Homo sapiens: one gene and its partners. The protein of the gene in region 2 interacts with the protein of the main gene of each other region in a biochemical or structural test. Each region holds a gene or a part of one and is shown on either strand. Other genes may lie near its edges. The genes, in order: NFIB, TBXT and NFIA.

Evidence for each region.
Region 1: the proteins of TBXT (region 2) and NFIB form a complex in vitro, tested with the Homo sapiens proteins (one study listed by BioGRID).
Region 3: the proteins of TBXT (region 2) and NFIA form a complex in vitro, tested with the Homo sapiens proteins (one study listed by BioGRID).

The regions. Positions count from the first base shown.
Region 1 is NC_000009.12:14,312,373-14,316,195, forward strand, and holds the start of NFIB (nuclear factor 1 B-type), read right to left. Parts: upstream 1,770-3,823; 5' UTR 1,140-1,769; coding exon 1,110-1,139; intron 1-1,109.
Region 2 is NC_000006.12:166,161,252-166,164,851, forward strand, and holds part of TBXT (T-box transcription factor T), read right to left. Parts: coding exon 3,549-3,600; intron 3,416-3,548; coding exon 3,354-3,415; intron 1,373-3,353; coding exon 1,196-1,372; intron 1-1,195. UniProt on the Homo sapiens protein: Involved in the transcriptional regulation of genes required for mesoderm formation and differentiation. Binds to a palindromic T site 5'-TTCACACCTAGGTGTGAA-3' DNA sequence and activates gene transcription when bound to such a site.
Region 3 is NC_000001.11:61,085,412-61,089,234, reverse strand, and holds part of NFIA (nuclear factor 1 A-type), read right to left. Parts: intron 1,087-3,823; coding exon 555-1,086; intron 1-554.

The DNA of each region.
Region 1 (3,823 bases), on a different chromosome or scaffold from region 2:
TGACTAGTTTTCATGGCAATGTCAAAGAAAATAGTTATCAATTACCAATGGTGACACATCTTCCGAAAAGCTGAAATAAGCTGCCCCATACCTTTAGAGGTTTAAAATACTGCCTCAAATAACAGTTCTGGGCTAAGATATTTTAGTTACTTTGTCAGTTGTTAGTTCCCTGGGCAGCGATGAAAACTGCCCCCAGGTAAGTCTGTTGGGTCTCGCCGCTTTTCTATTTGACCGTCTGGCTTAAAGTGATACAAATCGTGTTTCTAAAAAGTATAAAACCAGTGTTTTATTTCATAACATTATTCCTAAGGTCTTAGGACAATTCTCAAAGTCGAAAAAAATGACCTTACTTCTACCAGCATTACTTAAAATGCCTTACGAGCTACGCCCAAATATCGTCAAATGAACAGGTTTCCACAAAAGGAACACGTTCTAAAAACTCCTTAACAATCACCAAGACCAACTAACTCGTGTCAACGTAAATACTGCCTTTGTGGTGCGGTCACTAGAAACCCCAAAGTGCAGCAGGTCACTATGGACCAGGGTTTCAGATCCCCAAATAAAGCAAAGGAATGGGTCCCCGGACCACAACCTCCGACTCGATTCGTCGCCCGCCCACCGCCTGCAGCGCAGTCCAGCGGCGCCCACACAGACTCGTGCTACAGTCCCCTCGCCCAAGTTCACTGGCTGTTTTTAAAAGCTTAGTCCCCCGTAAAGTCCTCCAAAGCCCGAGTCCACCTCAACGCGCGAGCTGCTGAGAGGGGCTACGGGCACCCCGGGCGGGGATGCCGCACCACAACGGGCACTTGAGGGGCCGCACGGGGCCTCGCACTTACAGGTCCCGGCCCTGCCCACCCCCCGGCGGCCTTGCCCGGCCCAGCGCCCGCGCTCCGTGCCCAGGGCGCGGGGCTGGGCGCTCGCAGTGGCCGTGGCGAGGGGCCGCTCCCGGCTCCCACGCCGCCCCGCGACGCCCGCTGCAACTCCGGGCCACTTCTCCAAGGGACGGGGATGTGCGGAGGTTAACTCAAGCCGCTAATTGTCCGCAACAAAACAAAACAAAGGCATTTCGGGCCAGAGAGAAAGCTCGAGAAAGCGACCGAGACATGTACCTGAGTGAGACAGATGGGAGAATACATCATGACTTCGCCTTAAAACGCACTTTCCGGGAGATGCCCAAGAAAATCTTCGAGAAGCAAGAATTTCATCTATTCATTTTACAGTCATCTGAGCCCCGCGATGCGATCAATCAGGACGGGGCTCTGCGCTGGATCACCGCAACTTCACAACAAACCCAGTCCTCCTTAAATAGCCAAAGATTCAAGTTCACTCGGCGTGCTAGATTTCCAGGGGTGAAATCCAATCTACACTTTTAACCCTCTTGCAGTCCGAGCGCGCTGGCCGTGCTTGCCGAGGCCGCCGCCGCCGCCGGTGTTGGCTGCTTTTCGCCTGGGTTTGGGGATTTGTTTTCTATTTTGCAGTTGTTGTTGTTGTTGGGGTGTAGGGGGTGCGCGAAGGTTCGGTGTGGGTTGGATTGGGGTGGTGGTTGGTGGTAAAATGCTTTTTCAAAAAAGGCGGGGAGGGGGGCGCGGGAGGGCGCAGGAGGGCGAGCGGGCGGGCGGGAGGGAGAGCGGGGAGAATGTGTCACCGCGCTGGGAAAGTTCAAGGTTACAGCCCCAAGCACTGCGGCAGGATCCCGGAGTGGTGATCGCAGGCGAAACTTTGCCGCGAGCCGACCATGTGTGTGCGCGAGGGGCAGCGTGAGCGAGTGCGCGCGGGTGGCGGGGCGCGCGCGGGAGAGGGCCGGGGTGGGGGCGGGGTGGGATGGGGGAGAAGGGAGAGGCCGGGGTGAGGGAGGGGGCGCGAGCGCTGATCTCTGGGGCGGAAGAGGCTCGCGGCGCGTGGTCCCCGGCAGCAGCAGCCGCCGCCGCCCGCGCCGGGTCTTCGGCGCCCGGCCGCCCGCCCGCCCGCCTCGCCCCGCGTCTGACCCGGCCGAGCGTGGAGGCTGCTGTTGCCGCCGCTGCCCAGAGCCCAGGGGTATCAAAACGATCTCCTGAAAAATTCCAAACGATAAATCCCGCTCTCCCGCTCGGCTCCAAACTCCTCTCTTTTCTGCTCTAGGCTCTTTTTTTTCCCTCCCTCTCTTGCTTTCTTTCGTTGCAAAACTTGGAAGTTGAAAAATTCACCGGTTCCACCCTCTGGACCCCGCTCGAGCTCTCTCCAAATCAGACTTAAGGATTGTTTTATTATTTAATTACACAATCATCGCTTTACTCCTCCTCCTGCAAACGCGCATTCCTTTTGCACCAGCCTCTCCACACCCCCCGCCCCCCCACCTTCCTCCTCCTCCTCCTTCTCCTTCTCTCCCCCCACCTCTCCCTCATTTGTTAAAGGTATCCTACCGGTGCTACAGAACCATGACTTTTTTTTTTTTTCCAAAATAGCTCTTCTTTCCGCTGCCCTCCCCACACCAGCACACACATACACACCCCCGAAAACCCGCCCTGGAAGAGGTATTTCGGTGCTCGCTGCGGACTCTTTTAAGCCGCGGGAACATCCGAGTGGGAGAAGCACCGAAACCGTCTGAGCCCGAGAAAGGAACGAGTGGAAAATTCCCTCACACCCAGGCCGCCCCCAGGCCGGGGCTGGGGCGCGGACACTCGCACCCGGGGCGGGCTCAGTCCGCGGAGCCTGCGGCTGCCGGGAAAAGGGGGAGGCCGAGCAGGCGGGGACCTGAGCGAACTTGGGCTCAAGTAGTTGGGGCGCGCCGGCGTGGACCAGGGGGGTGCGGCGCCCAGCCCCCGACGGCCCCGCCCGGAGCCCGGGTTCGCGGATAGGGAGGGGGTGCGGGTTCGTCCCGGGTCTGCCCACCAGGGGCCCGCACCCGAGGCAGTCGCGGCGCGCGGCGCTTCGCCGCGGTTTGCCGCCCTCCCCGGGGGTGCCCCGTGCACGTGGCCTCGCTCTGAGCGGGAGGACCGGGCCGAGCCGCCGCCGCCGCCTCTTGCTCCCTCCACCTCCTCCCCGCGCCCGGCTTCGCTCTCCTCCTCCTCCTCCTGCAGCCCCGCTGGCTGGCTCCCAATCCCCACCCCCCGGGGCCCGGGGCGCCGGCGGAAAGCGTCTCCCTACCCGCCCGGGTGCAGGCGGGGCGGGGCCGCGGCGCGCCCGGGGCTGCGGGGCGGGCCGGCGGGCGCGCGCGCGCCGCTGCAGCCCTCCAGAGGCTGCGGGCCCTGAGCCGCTCGGCGCCCGCGCCGGCTCCCCACCGCGGCGCTGCCCCGCCCCCACCCCGTCGCCCGTGCAGGCTCCGAGTGAATGAACTTGATTCCAGGGATTTTGAAGAAGGCGGTTCGCCTTGCACCCTTTCTGCACCCCCCGCCCACATACACACACCGCCCCCCAAATCCAGTTTTCTGCTTGGGGTGGATGGGGACGAGGGGGAAGCAAAGGCCTCCCAGACAATGGAGGGAGGAAAAGTGAGCGCCTGGGGCTCCGAGTCTACCTAGCTGGGGGATCCGGGGGGCGCTGGGGCTACCGGGTCCTCGCGGGCCCATCCCCAGGGCGGGGCCGCCCCGCTTCCACGGGTACTGCTGGGGCGTTTCGAGGCTCGCCCCCGATTCCCCGGTCCTCTTTCCACCGCTTCCCAGCTCGTGATCTGTCCCCTCAACTTTAGCCCCTCTCACTCCCTCTGGTTTCTGTCCACCGTCCCCTCTTCCCTCCCCCAGCGGACCTGGAGGAACCAGTGACTTTTTCCTTCACCAAGTGGGAGTTATCCACATCAAGCATTTCACAACGACACATCAAGAAAAGTAGGCAGGTTCAAGTCAACCAT
Region 2 (3,600 bases):
TGACTTGGAATTACTTATCTTTAAAAATAAATATAACTTTACCCTGCCTTTTTACCAGTGATTACTTCATAAGAATGGGCGATAGAAACCATTACTCCAGGCAAAATTAGAAATAAGATCTTCCTGCCTCAGAGTCTAGCCTCTGGTTGAACAAGTCCCAGTGACTTCCTAACCCAATAAGGTCCTTTCATTTCAAATCAGCTTTAATTGCTTAATTGTTTTATGGTATTCTTTAGCTATTTTCCTTCTTTTGGAGCCAGACAAAATTAAGTCTAGACATATACAGTGTTATAGAGAGAATTAGGCCAGGGGATCTTTATGGTCTATCCCAGTGTTCCTAATATTGGAGCATGCATCGGAATGGCCTGGAAGGCTTTTAAAAGCACACTGGCCAGGCGTGGTGGCTCACGCCTGTAATCCCAGCACTTTGGGAGGCCGAGGCGGGTGGATCACGAGGTCAGAAGATCGAGACCATCCTGGCTAACACGGTGAAACCCCGTCTCTACTAAAAATACAAAAAAATTAGCCAGGCCTGGTGGCAGGCACCTGTAGTCCCAGCTCCTTGGGAGGCTGAGGCAGGAGAATGGCGTGAACCCGAGAGGCGGAGCTTGCAGTGAGCCGAGATCGTGCGACTGCACTCCAGCCTGGGCGACAGAGCGAGACTCCGTCTCAAAAAAAAGCACACATTGCCGGGCCCCACCAAGAGCTGCTGCCTGTCAGTCTGGGGTGGGGCCTGAGACTGTGCCCACTCTCGGGTGGTGCTGAGGCTCTGGCCTGGGCACCGTATTTGGAGAATCACTGGTGTAGTCAGGAATTCTTGAGCCTGGCTGCCCATCATTGTCACTTTAGAGAGGTTCATAGAAGACTCAAACCTGGGCTCTCCTCCTAAGGATCGACCATGGTTCTGTGGAGAGGCCCAGGAATCTGTCATTTTCAAAACCTGGAGCAGCAGCTCTGAGGCCTGTGCAAGGATGCAAGCCTCTGATCTGGGTGTCCGTGGTTGTTCCGCCAGCAGCGGCAGTGGCGGAGACATAAATTGAAGATCTTCTCTTGAGCTACTAAAAAACTGGGCTTGGGTATGTGTTCCAGAAAACCGTCTCCATTTTTTTAGATTCTAGACTCCTGCAGAATGCCTTTCCCAAAGTGGTCTTGCAGCCACCCACCAACCCCTGGCAGAATGAGGCTGAGGACTCACTTGGAGAATTGTTCCGATGAGCATAGGGGCTGGGGTAGGGTGAGGACCGGTGGCTCCTCAGGGTTGGGTACCTGTCACAGCTGTGCGTGGAGGGGAGGGAGAGGGCACCTCCAAACTGAGGATGAGGATTTGCAGGTGGACACAGGGTGCTGGTTCCAGGAAGAAGCCACCCCCCTGCTGTGAGAAAAGACAGTGCTGAGTAACCTGCATTAGTGCTCCCTCCATCTCTCCAGAGAGCAGAGCCCAGGCCAGGGACTGTCCCTCCATCACTCCAGAGAGCAGAGCCCAGGCCAGGGACTCTCCCTCCATCACTCCAGAGAGCAGAGCCCAGGCCAGGGACTCTCCCTCCATCACTCCAGAGAGCAGAGCCCAGGCCAGGGACTGTCCCTCCATCACTCCAGAGAGCAGAGCCCAGGCCAGTGACTTCCCACCTTCCCCTCAGGGGCCCCTGATGGGGGAAGCACCCTGAGTGTCTCATACTTAGGACACAGTCTGCCTCACAAGACATCTGAGGCCATCAGCCCCACACTCACTACCACAGGTAACCCAAGGCTTCCAATCCTGTGTGTACCTGAGTAAACCCAGGAGCCTGGCCTCAGGCAACCTAAGCTGTTTCCTCCTGAGAATCCTCTGGATTGCTTTGAGATCTACTATTCCCCAAGGCAGGTGAGCTTTCCTCCACTGAGCATGAATACAATGTAACCACAGGCAGAGAGCAGGTGAGAGATGCTGAGAGAGGTGGGGTGGTGCTTAGACAAGGGTGCCCTCCCCTTCTCCTCCTGCCACCCACAGAGACGGGAGGTGCCTTCCTAGCTGGGGGTAGACCCTTTTACTGCTCACTCTCCTGGTTTAAGCTCCCCCCATTCTCCCCAGGAGAATCAGAAAGTTCTTCCAAGACTCCCCTTCCTTCCTCTAAAACTACAATTTCTTGTCCACTCATTTTTTTCTCCTCTGAGACTGGGAGTTTCATTCTGTCACCCAGGCTGGAGTGCAGTGGTGTGATCTTGGCTTATTGCAATCTCCGCCTCTCAGGTTCAAGGGATTCTCATGCCTCAGCCTCCCAAGTAGCTGGGATTACAGGCGCCCACCATCATGCCTGACAATTTTTGTATTTTTAGTAGAGATGAGGTTTCACCATATTGGCCAGGCTGGTCTCTAACTCCCTGATCTCAAATGATCCATCCAACTTGGCCTCCCAAAGTGTTGGGATTACAGGCGTGAGCCACCGTGCCCGTCCTCTTCTACACTCTTCAAGCTTTGTTGTTTTGATTGAGAAAAAGCAACCCCTAGCGGGACAACTACTGTGGCTTCAATTTCCAAACTACTAACAATTCTCCAGGCAGCACTGGAAGGAAGGGTGCAGACGTGCCCTGGCTGCCCAGCCGGCCCTGGCCAGAGCAGTGGCTCACTCTACTCAAGTGACTGCCTTTCTGGTTGTTCAATCAGCCTAGGAAATGATGAAAAATCTACAGAATAGAAAATGCCTGTGTAAGGAGGAGTGTGCCCTGTTGATTCATCCAGCCTCTTGACCAGCCAGTGCTACCGCGTTCATTGTTTAATATCTCCAAGTCCCTTCCCCGGGTGGAGAGGACGGACCAGGATGAGAGAGAGCGTTTCTCCCAACAAATGCTGCCGTATAATCCTCTATCCTGCACTCTGACTCCTGAAAGTCCTAGAGGGAGCTAGACTTAAATCCAACTCTCTCATCCTCAGAGCCACAGGAGCTGGTGAGACATTCCTAGAACCAAAGGGCTAAGGAAAAATTTGGTTCCTAAGCATCATTGGAAAGATGGCTCTTCAACCATTAATGAAAGCCTCAAAGAGGAGGTAATGAGCTAGATTCTCCTGTTGCCTACCTAATACAGGAGAGTCCAAACACCCAGCTAGGTCTCAATGATCCACCCCAGGCATGGTGGCAGCTGCCTCACGGCAAAACAAAAGCACCCAGGAGAGTATCCACAGCCCCGATTAGAGCAGAGGTTAGATGGGCAACACAGCTTCAACATCACAGGGCCAAGAGCCTCGCATGGCAAAAAGGCAATCTTACATCCCAGGCACACCCAGAAACACCCTTGTCTTCTCCATCTCCACTTCCCAGCTCTCAGCAAGTCTAGTCCCGATGACGCAGAATGACATGACAGAGTGCAACAAACCGTACATTGGGAGTACCCAGGTTGCTGGCTGTCTCCGGGTTCCTCCATCATCTCTTTGTGATCACTTCTATCAAAATGAAAAAAAAAAAGTATATCGAATTTTCAAAAATAAGGAAATTCAGAAAAGAGTATGTGCAGCAATATTTCATCTTTCTGCATACTTCTTTGCCCAAGGGTATTTATAGTTAGAATTCTCTCACCTTTCCTTTGCATCAAGGAAAGCTTTTGCAAATGGATTGTACTTAATTTTAA
Region 3 (3,823 bases), on a different chromosome or scaffold from region 2:
GAGACAACACTAAGAATTCCTAAATACAAAGCTACTAAGTCTGCGTATTAATGTGATTATTTTTCCTTCCTAAATGATCAGCAATTTGATAGTAATCTACCTCCAACTTCTTAATTGGCAAGGGGTTCAAGAGGCCTCAGTAGGTTAAAAACACTCCCAGCAGAAAACCAACTAAAAATATTGCCTCAATACCAAAATAAATGCTTTTAAACTAGATCATTTGTCAGTTAAAATATACTCTTTATTAAAAGGGTTTTCACGAGGCTTCTCTCATCCCCTCATCAAAAAATGTGATTTAAACATATCACATATCTGATTACCAACGCCTCTGAAAACACTACTTACCAAAAGAGCTGAACTTAGTGAGAATTCGCTCAAAGCTATGCTTTTTCACCTGAATGAAGGTGGCACCTCTCTCAATCTTTGAAACCACACTGGCTTCATGTACGTGGCCTGCAACTTGGGGAGCTCAGGAAGAATCCGGCATAACGCGGAGGCCATCAGGAAAGAAACACACACAAGAAAGTGGGAGGAATTCTCACCATCGCACTTACCTGCTGCATGCACAAAGTATGCCAAATATAAATCGAGTTCCTTAACAGAAACCCCTATGTGATGGGGTTGGACACAGAGCCCTGGATTAGAGCATTGTGGGGACTTTACAAGGCGCTCGCCATCAGTACTTTCCAGCGGAATACCTTTAAACAAAATCACCATAACAAGGTCCAACCTCCAGACTTTATCTGCCTGGCGGAGGCAGTCAATTCTTCGCATCTTGCCTTTCTGGTCTGGGTTGGAAAGAACACAACATGGAGGTTTTTTCCCTGTAACTGTAAGAACAAAATCCTCTCGATATTCGGGTCGGATATCTTTCCGCAACTTTGCCAGAAGTCGAGATGCCCACTTCTGCTTGACCTCTGGTTTTTCACTTAGCAATTCATCCTTCACGGCTCTCTCTTCTTCTTTTGACATACGCTTTTCATGTTTTTTGAAGTATTTTCGTTTTCGGGCCTGCAGGTTGAACCATGTGTAGGCAAAGGCTCGGACGTGGGGCAGAAGTGCTTCGATGAAAGGATGAAATTCATCCTAGGAAAATGAACAAAAAGAAAAATATAAGTAGAATGAAAACAAAAGAAAACAACTTTTCTTCAGCGGGTCACCTTAAGAAAGAAATTCCTCATTTCACTTGAAATTTGATTAGAGCATTCTGTTACCAAAATCATACACAGGATCCTATGGGAAGTCTGGGAAGGTGGGAGAGAAAACTATCAGTATCATTTCTTATGATCGGAAATAAAAAAACTGCTGAAAATTAAAAAACTGTTTTAATATGTTCACCAGGGTACACCAGCTACTACTGTCGGGCCTAGCTCCCCATCCTTTAGATAGTAAGTGAAGTTTATCTAAATGCTTATAACAATGTATAATCTTAACCCTATTTCAAGGAAGGCATATCTAATTTTGTCCCAGCCTTGACCTCACCACTTGTAGTACAGCCAGGGCCCAGCCGCCAGATTGGCAAATCCTAAACATTTAGATGCCAGTCAATGTTTATGGAAGTCTAGGAGCAAAAAATCATCTCTACAATCAATGAAAACAAAGGCTTTCCCCCTAAAAATATTGCATGTAGATTCTGATATGTTTCTTACTCATTTTGCTAGTGTCTAAATTCCCCTTTTAAATATTATAACTACATATAATTTTTTTAGTCAAAAACTAGGACAAATTTGGGAGGTTCATATACAAAAGAAGGATTGAATTTGATATTTATTAGGCTAAAATAAAAGATCTATGCCCAAGACATAATTGCTAATACTATGGGAATGAAACAAAAAGGGGGAAGAAAGAGGAAAAAAAAACAAAGAAAAGCATACATGAATACATTTAATTTACTAATATGATTGTGAAGTGCTTTCAGTAATAATCATACCTAAAAAATAGATTATTTAATTTTTGCAAATACTATTTCAGGATTTTTCTCATAGGGAATCAGAACCTGGTATTTTCAATATTTACAAGATGCCGGGAAAACCCTCATAGATGCCTCTTAAAATTGAAAAAAAAATTGAGTTTCAAATATTTAAATGTTTCTTTCTGTTTTGCTTAAAATGTTTGATCCTTATACATGACATTTTCTTAGGAAATATAAATATATTTTTTAAAAAATTAAGCAGTAACCTCCACAAAGCTTTCGGAGTACGTCTAACTTTTGATTAACTAATCCACACTGTTACATAACTTCTCTCTGCCACATAACCCCCTCTCCAAAACATAGATTACCTTCAAATAAATGAGGATTAGAAACCAAAGAAAGATTCGATGGCTTTTTTGCTAAATGGTGTAGGACAGACAAATATTATAAAATGCATTCTTTTTCAGTTTGTTATATCTAACTAAATATATACTTTCAAGGCACAGGTAGCAGTAATGTCCAGAATATTATTATTAACACAATTACTAAATTTTTAAATGTTCAAATGTGAACTGATAAGGTAAAATATTTAATAGTCGTGTTGTTTAAAAATTTAGCAAATTATAATCAATCATTTAAACACTCTATATGACTGAGCTTTTAAAAGTAAGTATATATTAATACATAATAAATTACTTCAATAACTGACTTTTTTCCTCTCTGCACAAATTTCAGGTTCTATGTTTCAAGTTTAGCTTTCAAAACTGCTCTTTTTCAATAAAAGAATCCAAAAGAGAAGTAGTCAGCTTTTGTAACACGTGTGCATTCTTTAAGTAGAGAGAGAATAGAAAAAAATACAGGAATTGTTATTCTTGCCATAAACCATTAACATTTTTAAAATTTCTGATGTTTGAGAATATTTCTTATTCTCATACTTTAGGTGACAGGCATGGGGGGCAAGTCACAGTTTATCTGCAAAGGTATACGCCAAACCACAAAGCATCTAAACGTTACTAAATTCTGAGCTCATCCTTGAAATGATCTAAAATACATAAATTTTAGGTTTGAAACAGAACTTCACATTGACTGATTTTCTTATATATACAAGACATGCTAGGGACCAAGACTCTGTTGTATTATGCAAAAAACTCCTGGAGTCTACCTTAAACTACCAAGTGAGCTTTCACCAAAAGGAGGACTTCATTTTAAAGTTTCATCCCCATTTTATAATGCAAAGTATAACTTAGCTCCAAACGATTCATATCTATGTTAAAATGTTATCTTATTTAAAAGTTTGATTAATGATAATAAGCATTTAAAATAAACATTCTAATATGGCATTTTAAGTGTCTGTAGATACTCCCAATATGCTTTTCAAAAAACTGCAAACTGCATGCATGCATTCGTGTCCAACAGGATTCTGTTTACCTGCCAACCAAATGCCCATATATCTCATCATAAAAATCCTTAAACAAGAACAACTATGTCAATTAGTCATTAAGAATAACTTAAGTCCCCAATTTTGCATCAAAAGTATTTACAATGTATTACTCCCCAAAGGTTAAGAACCTGCCAGTAAAAGTCCACAATATTTTGTATAACTTTACTCATATGCACAATTAAAGTATTGATTTTTTCTAATGTATCTTTCTCAAGTCATGATTTAAAATATTCCAGAATATCAAAACTAAAGAGTATCATTAGCTTGCAAGAAATGTCCAGGAATAGCATAAATGATTAGTTAAAAAAAAAAAGTAGTGTGCCCTTATAATTCATGTTGCTGAACATATCGCTATAAGCTAGGTACTATTTCATAACATTCAAGAGGAAAAAAAGAACGTTTTACATATGTACTCAGTGAGAAAGTTATAGGCCACCAATAAAAACAAACCTGAAAACCTGTTTCAAAAG